2 separate regions of the Homo sapiens genome follow, and region 1 is linked to region 2. Evidence: fine-mapped expression QTL. A gene starts in region 2. The other region holds a variant in brackets. All regions are shown on one strand. Distances are between the middles of the regions.

Region 1 (4,252 bases), 320 kb after region 2:
GAGGAGCTTCCCCTTAAGCCTGAGTTTCTGAGAGCGGAGAAGGAGAAGCTGGGTGAGGCTCGCATGGACCTTGGGGAGTCCGGGCTGGGGGACCGTTCATAAGAAGAGCCAGACAAGACCCTACTGTTCTTAGGTGCAGACATGATTAGGAAACCTGCAGCTCCCAGGGGCCCCTACTAATTTTCTAACTCGCAGAAGGAAGGAGTGTGTGTGCGTGTGTGTGTGTCTGTGTGTGTGCGGTGTGAGGTATGTGCCCCTTAAGAAAATGGAAATCAACCAACCAATGAGACAGACACACAGACAGACAGACAGACAGACAGACAGACAGAGAGTCACTTGCCCAAGTGTTCTGTCCTGTCCTCTGAATCTGCCTCCAAGTCGCAAGACGCCGTGAGCTCCAAGTCCACGCAGAGTCCGCCAAAGGCTCCGGCCGCTGATCCGCTCCGCGAAGATCTGAGTACAGGCCAGCCAGCGTGGGTTTAAATAGCCTCGGGCGCAACCTAGCAGCGGAAAGGGCGGAGCTTCACTCCTCCTTTCCGTCAGTCACCCCCAACTTTCCCAGGCTACACCTCGTAGGAAACTGTTCTACTTTGATTTCATGCGCCACCTTTGGAACAATCTAAGAACTTCCAAGTTTTCTTGGCCAGATATATTAGGAATTGTATGCACTGAAACACTGAAAACCAACTAGTGGTTCTGTGGTTCCCACGTTGTGGTTTTGACGCCAGCAGCATCCTTGCCACAATCAAACCCCGGAGATCCACAGATCTGTGTTGTAACAAGACCTCCCCCTGACCCTGATGCATGGCAGTTTAAGAAGTCTTTCCGTGTAAGCGAAAAGACTTTGAAGAAAAGGTGGAGATATGCGTTGTATAAACATTCTTTTGCTCTGGGACCAGGTGGAGACTTGGGAGCCAGTTGGGTGGAGCATTCGTTGGATGAGGGTGCTCGGGTTCGGAATATCAAGGTGTGGCTCCAGATAATCCAATCATCTAATTAAGATTCCAGTTGTGCTCATCTGTTTTAAAATTCCGTTTGGGTAAATTCTTTTATTCAGACTGAGAATGGCAAAGCCTCAACCCCAATTTCCAGGGAGGGTTGAGAGCCTCAGGTGGAGTTGATCACCAATAGCCTATGGTTTAACCCATCATGCCTATAGAATGAGGTCTCCATAAAAACCCAAAAGGACTGGGATCAGAGAGCTTCTGTATAACACTTCTTGGAAGGTAGTGCGCCCCTCCCCACATGCCGGGCCCCACATTTATTTCTGAACTTTTTGCAATGTCCGCTAAATAACAACGGCAAATGTAAGTGTTTCCCCGAGTGCCGTGAGCTCTTCCAGCAAATGAATGCAACTAAATCTGGGAGTGGTGGCAACCTGATTTATAGCCAGTTGCTGAGAAGCACAGGTAAAACAACGTAGGGCTTCCCGTTGTTACTAGTGTGGGAGGCCTGCCTGGCGGGACTCGGCCCTTTGGAATCCAATGCTATGTCCCGGTAGATAGCGTCACCATTGAATTAGAAGACACACATATGTTGAGAATAATCTTTCTGGTCATTTGCTGCATGTCTTATTTACAATATGTAATCAAATTCCTTATCCTGACCTTATGGCACCTGGGTTGAGAACCATGATTTGAACCAAACATTGGTCTGTCACTTTCTGAGTTTGAAACTTTATTTTGCCTTTAGCGTTTTGCTACTGCTTTTTCGTTTTCTTTTGTTTCGTTTCGATTCTAAGTTGTGGGGTATATGTGCAGGATGGGCAGATTTGTTACTAAGGTAAACGTGTGCCATGGTGGTTTACTGCACCTGTCAACCCATCACCTAGGTATTAAGCCCAGCATGCAGTAGCTGTTTTTCTTAACGCTCTGCCTCCCGAAAGGCCCCAGTGTGTGTTGTTCCCCTTCCTGTGTCCATGTCATCTCATTTTTCAGCTCCCATTGTAAGTGAGAATGTGGCGTTTGGTTTTCTTTCCCTGGATTAGTTTGCTGAGGATAATGACCACACATCACCGCTGTTTTTGTTTTTTAGTATAAAGAGTAGCATTTTATTGAATAAGATTTGCTCACAGAAAAATAATCTTAAATCTACAATGAATGCCAGACTCTACAGCAGAAAGGAATTTTCTCACTTTTCCACACACAATGGTTCCTACTAAGTGAAAAAAAGCCATAAAATTTCATTCACAAATGTATTACTCTGTCTCAAAACATCTCACATAATCATGCACTGTACTAAAGCCATT[A/C]GATCAGTGCTTCAGTCAGGTTAAAGAAGTATCCCTCTAATAACTGACTTTTATAATGCGATCAATATGCACTCCCAATCAGTCTGCCATTGTTAATGGTGTACAGCATTACTGTATACAATGGAATTGATGACACCCATATCCATGGACAAACCGTGACTTATGATGGTTTGATTCATGATTTTTCAACGTTATGATGGGTTTATTGGAATATTAGATGCGGTTCCGAGTTACACTGGGTTTATGAGTATGCGACCCTATACTCCAGAAACAGCTGTATAAGGAAAAACAGGTGTACATAATAAAAATATGCTTAGTGACTTGCGATAAACCAATAGATGTTCACAACTGATGGAGAGCCGTGAAAGAGAGATAGCGGTAAATAGTTACAATAACACAATTTTCCTGCACCTGTCGAGGATTTCCCCAAGAAAACGCAGAATGTGGGATGCACCTAAGGCATGTGAAAGTGAGAGGGCAGAAGGAGTAAGAGAGAAATAGGAGGAAGGAAGGAAGGAAGGAAAGAAGGAAGGTAGGAAGGACGGAAGGAAAGAAAGAAGGAAGGAAAGAAGGAAAGAAGGACGAAAGGAAGGAGAAAACACCCGGTGTTACTAAAACCCCCCAAAAATATGGTTTCCCCCTGTGGGTAAGCCTACAATGTGGAGGAATCTTGAAAATATTGTGCTACGTGTTATGTCAGTCATAACAGCTCACCTATTGTGCAATTCCGTTTAAAGGAAATGTCCACAATATGGAAATCTCTGCATATGTGGTTGATCGCACTAGCTAGTTGCTACCTAGGGCTGAGGGTCAGGGAGAGGGTTTGAGACAGAATGAGGAGTGACTAATGTCTACAGGGTTTTTCTCTGGTCGGGGGTGATAAGACATTCTACAATGGATTGCGAATTAAAATTGAATGTGCACAACCACAGGTGTACTAAAAGCCACTCAATTCATGACTTTTAATGGGGGAATCTTATGTGGCGCACTCTCATGGAGACCACGGCAGACATAGTGAGAGAGAAAAAGGTGAGTGAATATCTGAAACGGAGGCAGAAACAGAGAGAATGAAAAGCCCAGTGAATGGAAGGGAGAGCGAAAAGGGAAAATGGTCCTATTTCCAAATGACAGATGTGAAACTGGGGTTCACATCAACAGTGTCACTGCCAGGAAGGAGGGTGATGCTAGCCATGTCACCGGTAGTGTGTCTCGCAGGGACGCCGACCTGCTGGAGCGTCGTGCCAGCATGGGCTCTGTCAGCCACGTGGGCCAGCAGGAGGGTCCCGCTGCACAGCTGTGGGGTGAGGATAGACTGGGTGGTGATATCGGCCATGACGGGGGCCTCTTCTGCTGGCAAGAGTGTGACAGTAGCAAGTAGATGGACAGGCCTGCGTGTGAGGACGGAATGCAGGAGCGGCTCTTGTGCGGCTGGGTGTGGGGCCCTCACGGGAACCGTGGAGTAATGGCCAGGTAACTGCGTCATGTGGGCTAGTAGATTGGCCAGGGCTTCGAACTGAAGGACAATAACGGGGAGTAGCTGTCAGGCCCTGGGAGTGTCTGAGTGTAAGTGGAGATGGGTTTGGGGTCACTGAGGGATGCATGGGAGCCATCCCTGTATAGGTACAGGTCATAGGGAGATAGTCTCGTGTGGCCCGTGAGTGTCTAGGGTTGTCCTGGGTGCCTGGGGCTGACTGTGGCAGAAATCTGGGGAAGGCTGGAGAGAAGCTGGGAGACCCAGGAGAGTCCCTGAAGGCAGGGGGTGAAGAGGTGAAAGAAATGGGGGAGGGTTGCAGTAAGGTCCGTGAGTTTGTAGGTGATTCCTGGGTGCGGGAAGCTGACTCCAGGTGAAATCTGGAGATGGTTGGAGAGTAGCTGAGAGAGACAGAAGAGTCCCTGAGGGCTGGGGGTGAGAACATGAGGGAGACTGGGGAGTAAGTCAGTGAAATTCGTGAGTTCGGTGTTGTATCGTGGGTGCCTGGAACTGACTCCAGCTGGAATCTAGAG
Region 2 (4,252 bases):
TTTTATATATAATAGGAATCCATTGCCTAATTCAAGATCGTGAAGATTTACTTTGATGTTTTCTTCCAAGAGTTTTACAGTTTTATTTCTTACATTTAGGTCTTTGATCCATTTCGAGTTCATATTTGTATATGGTGTGAAATATGGATCCAACTTTATTCTTTTGCATACAGATAGTACTCATAGAATCATTTTTTTGAAAAGACTCTTCCCTGTGGAATTGTCTTGGCAAGTTTGTGAAACTCATTTGACCCTAAAAGGGGGTTTTTATCTCCAGTCTCTCACTTCTATTCCATTAATCTATGTATCTACCCTTGAGATTGAGAGAGCTAGTAATTAACCGATTAAGAACTGTTTACTTGGTCAGGCGCGGTGGCTCACGCTGGTAATCCCAGCACTTTGGGCGGCCGAGGAGGGCGGATCATGAGGTCAGGAGTTTGAGACCAGCCTGGCCAATATGGTGAAACCCCGTCTTTACTAAAAATACAAAAATTACCTGGGTGTGGTGGCACGTGCCTGTAGTCCCAGCTGCGCGAGAGGCTGAGGCAGGAGAATCGCTTGAACCCAGGAGGCGGAGGTTGCAGTGAGCCGAGATTATGCCACCGCCCTCCAGCCTGGGCTACAGAGCAGGACTCCGTCTCAAACACAACAAAACAGAAAAAAACTCTTTGCTCAATACTCCTATGGACTTAATAGCAATGATTGCTGCTAATGTGATTCTAATACTTTTTGGGCATGCCATCATTGTTTAATTTCAGAGCAAACTTTCTGGAACTGATAAATAATAAGCTCTCCTTAAGAAATTAAAGTGCATTAAAATAAATTGCTTTCAGGGGTTCTTAAACAAGTTCAAGACATCCAGGAGTGTGATACATTTGAGCGAGAAATAGCTGGCCTAGTTCACTCTCCACATTAATCAGAACGTCTCCCACCTTCTTTTTAGGGATAAGCACTCTCAAATATCATTATTCATAAACTAGGGGAGGGCCGGGTTTCCACTCGCATCAGTTACTTTCTCTCCCCTGAGAATATCTTGCAGCCGCTGGAATTTTGGGCCCCTTTGCTAGGAGGCAATTAACAAATTGCACTTTTACTATCAAAGCTGAGAGTGGCCCAGCAGTGGCCCTGGCCCTGCCGGCACGCTTCCGATGCGTCGCCCTGGCCTGAAGATCGCCACAGTCGGGTTCGCGCCCCGTGGTCCCCTAAGGCTTCCAGGGCGCTGGAGCTGGTGCACAGGACCTGCTCCTCCAGGGTCCCCATCTGGGTCTCCAGCGGTCCTTCCTCTCTGCCTTCTCCTCGCAGAGCACCCCGTGGGCCTAGTCTAAACGAGGGCACCACTGGTCCGGAGTTGCACTTGTTCGCTCCCTCCTGGGCTCTGGCAGCGCTGCATCCCCGGGGTTGCTTCGGGTTCGGGCCCAATAGCAGAGTCAGAGCCGAGACGCATGTCCCCTGCACCGGCCAAGGGTGCCGCTGGGGCTCGCGCCAAGGAGGCAAAGGCGGGGACCAGAGGCGCCGGAGGCGGCGCAACGCGCACAGGTGGCGCCCGGCCTGGCCAGGCTCTGGCAGGCGAGGCTGGGTGTGGTCGTGAAGGGGCGGGCGGACCGGCCCCACACTGCCTCGGTTCGGCAAGTGGGTCAGTTGGCTGGGGCTCACTTGGCAACGGGACGCGGGAACGAGGGGCGCGGACGCAGGCCCGGGAGGACGCGGCGGCGGGAACCTGGGGGCGCAGGGCTAGGGCAGCGGGCCCGACCCGCACGGCTTTCCTGGAAAGCGCTGCCCCTCGCCGCGGCGATGCCCTCGCTGTGGAGAGAAATCCTCTTGGAGTCGCTGCTGGGTAAGCCGAAGCCCCTCGCCGCGAGTTCGCGGGTGCCAGCTCCCCGGGCCATGTCCAGAGCCGTGGAGCCAGGCCAGGTTGGCTGAGTTCAGGTAGGAGGAAAAGGGCGCTCCGTGCCCAGAGTGGAGATGCTTATCGTCCCCTGGGAACTTTTCCTACTGAAGGGAATAAAGGAAAAGACCTAGATTGAAGTCTTCAAGCTGAGTCTGCGAGGCGCCCGCGAGAGACCCCGTCGCCCGAGTTCCCAGCAGCCCTGGGATTGTGCCCAAGGAGCGCGAATTCTCCTCGTGTCGGCCTTGACCCCGCGCGGCCGGTACCGTCCCCAAAGCCCCCCACCCGTGGCCTTTAAGTTTAACTTAATACAGTTCAGTGCTGAACTTTAAAATTCAGAAGGAAAGGGGCACCCGTTTTCCCCAGGAGCTGTAGGTGGACACTGGGCGGCAGCTGCTGCCGTGGGCTGGGCCCAGGACAAGTGGCCTTGGTGTCGGCTGCACACTTGGGCATTTGGCGAAAAGCATCAGACTCGAGTCTCATCTGCTCTCTCACCAGCTTTGCAAAATCCCGAGGACAATTTTATTGGTGTAATTCTGTCGGAGCTGTGTGAGTAATAAAATCAAAGTTCCCAGACAAACATTTGGGATATTGCTAGAATCCCCGGTTCGTTACAAAACAAAGATCCCTCTGGTCTGGGTGGGGCGCCTTCCTGAGAACTTGATTTTCTGGGAGCTGGTAATTCTCGGGAGTGCTTCAGACTATTTTTTTCTGGCTCAGCCTGTATCTATAAGTTGGGAGATGTACAGTGCCTAGCATTCAATAAGTACCTCAGGTGCTAGGTACTCAGTGCACTTGATCTCATTTAATCCTCCCAACAACACTGTGAAGGGGTTGAAAGTCCTATTTTGCTGATTAAGAAGGGGAGGTTGGAAAGTCAGTTGGTAGAAAGTTCCCACGCCCAGTGGTTAGACCGGCTACCTTTGGAGCCAGGCTGCTTAGAGTTAGGGCAACTCTGACATTTGCTACTTGTGTAACCTTAGGTACTCACTTAACTTTCTGAGTCTCAGTGTTTTGTTTGTTGTTTTGTTCTTGCTTAGTTAGTTTTTGCATTTATAAGAGGGGAGCGGAAATAGTACCCACCTCATAGCTTATGGGGCTGTATAAGGAATGAGACAGATGGTACATGTTAATACTTAGCACAGACCCTAGTGCATGGCAAGTGCCCATAGCGTTAATTATCATTATTGCTCAAGATTATACAGCAGCTGTTGGCAGAGGTACAACTTACTTCAGATCTGGGTATTCCACTACCCAGCACTGCCTCATAAGGATTGGACTGAAAATGGTCTACTCAAGGGAACGACTGCTGCCTCACTCAAGTGCTTTTGGGTGTAGTCTGGGGTTGGAGGAGGGAGTCCTGCTGCTTGCTGCCCTTTTGGACTCTCACAATATTTTTCATTATACAGGGGACAACTTAGGTAAGAAAATTTTGTCAGTCAGGGTCCTGACGGGATGCCAAATTCAACTCAGATGGTCCAAATGAATAGGACTTAATAAAGAGACTGTCTACAGCCATATGGGCAAGGGAAAGGAACACGCAAGGGATGTTGAGAGACTCACGGCAGCAGGAAGCCATCCTCTACTGGGGCCTGATGCGAGGAGTGGGAGAATATGTACATTTCACCAGAAATTTCACTTCTGGGTATATATCCTACAGATATACTCAGTGTCATGTGTTACATAGTGACATTTCACGAGGAAATTGCCATTGCTTTTCTGTCCATCAGTCTCTTAAGCACAACACAGTCAGTGCAGTGAGTTCTGCGGATCCCTACACAGGTGTAGAGCTCTTGTTTTGTTCCATGTCAGTGGAGACAACTGGAACCCAGTTCAGGCCAGAGTCATGAAGAAGAATGACCAGCCCAAGCGGCTGGAGTGGAGGGACAGGACTGTCGTTAGAAACAATGTTGAAGTTACACTTTCTCTCTTTAACTTTTTTTTTTTTTGTAGGATGTGTTTCTTGGTCTCTCTACCATGACCTGGGACCGATGATCTATTACTTTCCTTTGCAAACACTAGAACTCACTGGGCTTGAAGGTTTTAGTATAGCATTTCTTTCTCCAATATTCCTAACAATTACTCCTTTCTGGAAATTGGTTAACAAGAAGTGGATGCTAACCCTGCTGAGGATAATCACTATTGGTAAGATTTAAAAGAGTTTCTTTAAGTTGTTTTTTTTAAGTTAAAAATCAAGTGAGATTATGTAGACTGTTCTTTGAATACTAAATATTTGAATTTAAAAAATCAAAGATTTCTCTTTTCCTTACCACTGCCTTAGAAGAGCTTTAGTAATTGGAAGACTAGACTGAGAGTCAATGTGTTTTACATTTCCATTGTTTTTTCCAGACTAGAAAGACCTAAAAA

Which allele goes with the higher level. Positions count from the first base shown, and alleles are read on the strand shown. Sizes are in standard deviations (SD) of each study's normalised expression.
In carriers of allele A in region 1, the expression in sun-exposed skin of the gene that starts at base 1,637 in region 2 tends to be higher than with C alone (moderate effect, 0.69 SD a copy in GTEx).

The links. PIP is the estimated chance that this variant, and not a neighbour inherited with it, causes the effect.
Region 1: its variant is the best candidate, but not a certain one, in a credible set for the expression of CWH43 in sun-exposed skin (GTEx, PIP 0.86).

Annotation. Positions count from the first base shown.
Region 1 is chr4:49,299,865-49,304,116 of GRCh38, forward strand. No RefSeq gene overlaps it. Among named protein-coding and RNA genes, the nearest start is that of CWH43, 320 kb to the left of the region's middle. The variant A/C (reference allele first, on the strand shown) is at 2,249.
Region 2 is chr4:48,984,639-48,988,890 of GRCh38, forward strand. CWH43 (cell wall biogenesis 43 C-terminal homolog) reads left to right here and starts at 1,637. Exons shown (of 16, transcript NM_025087.3): 1 at 1,637-1,834; 2 at 3,839-4,030. The coding sequence starts at 1,792.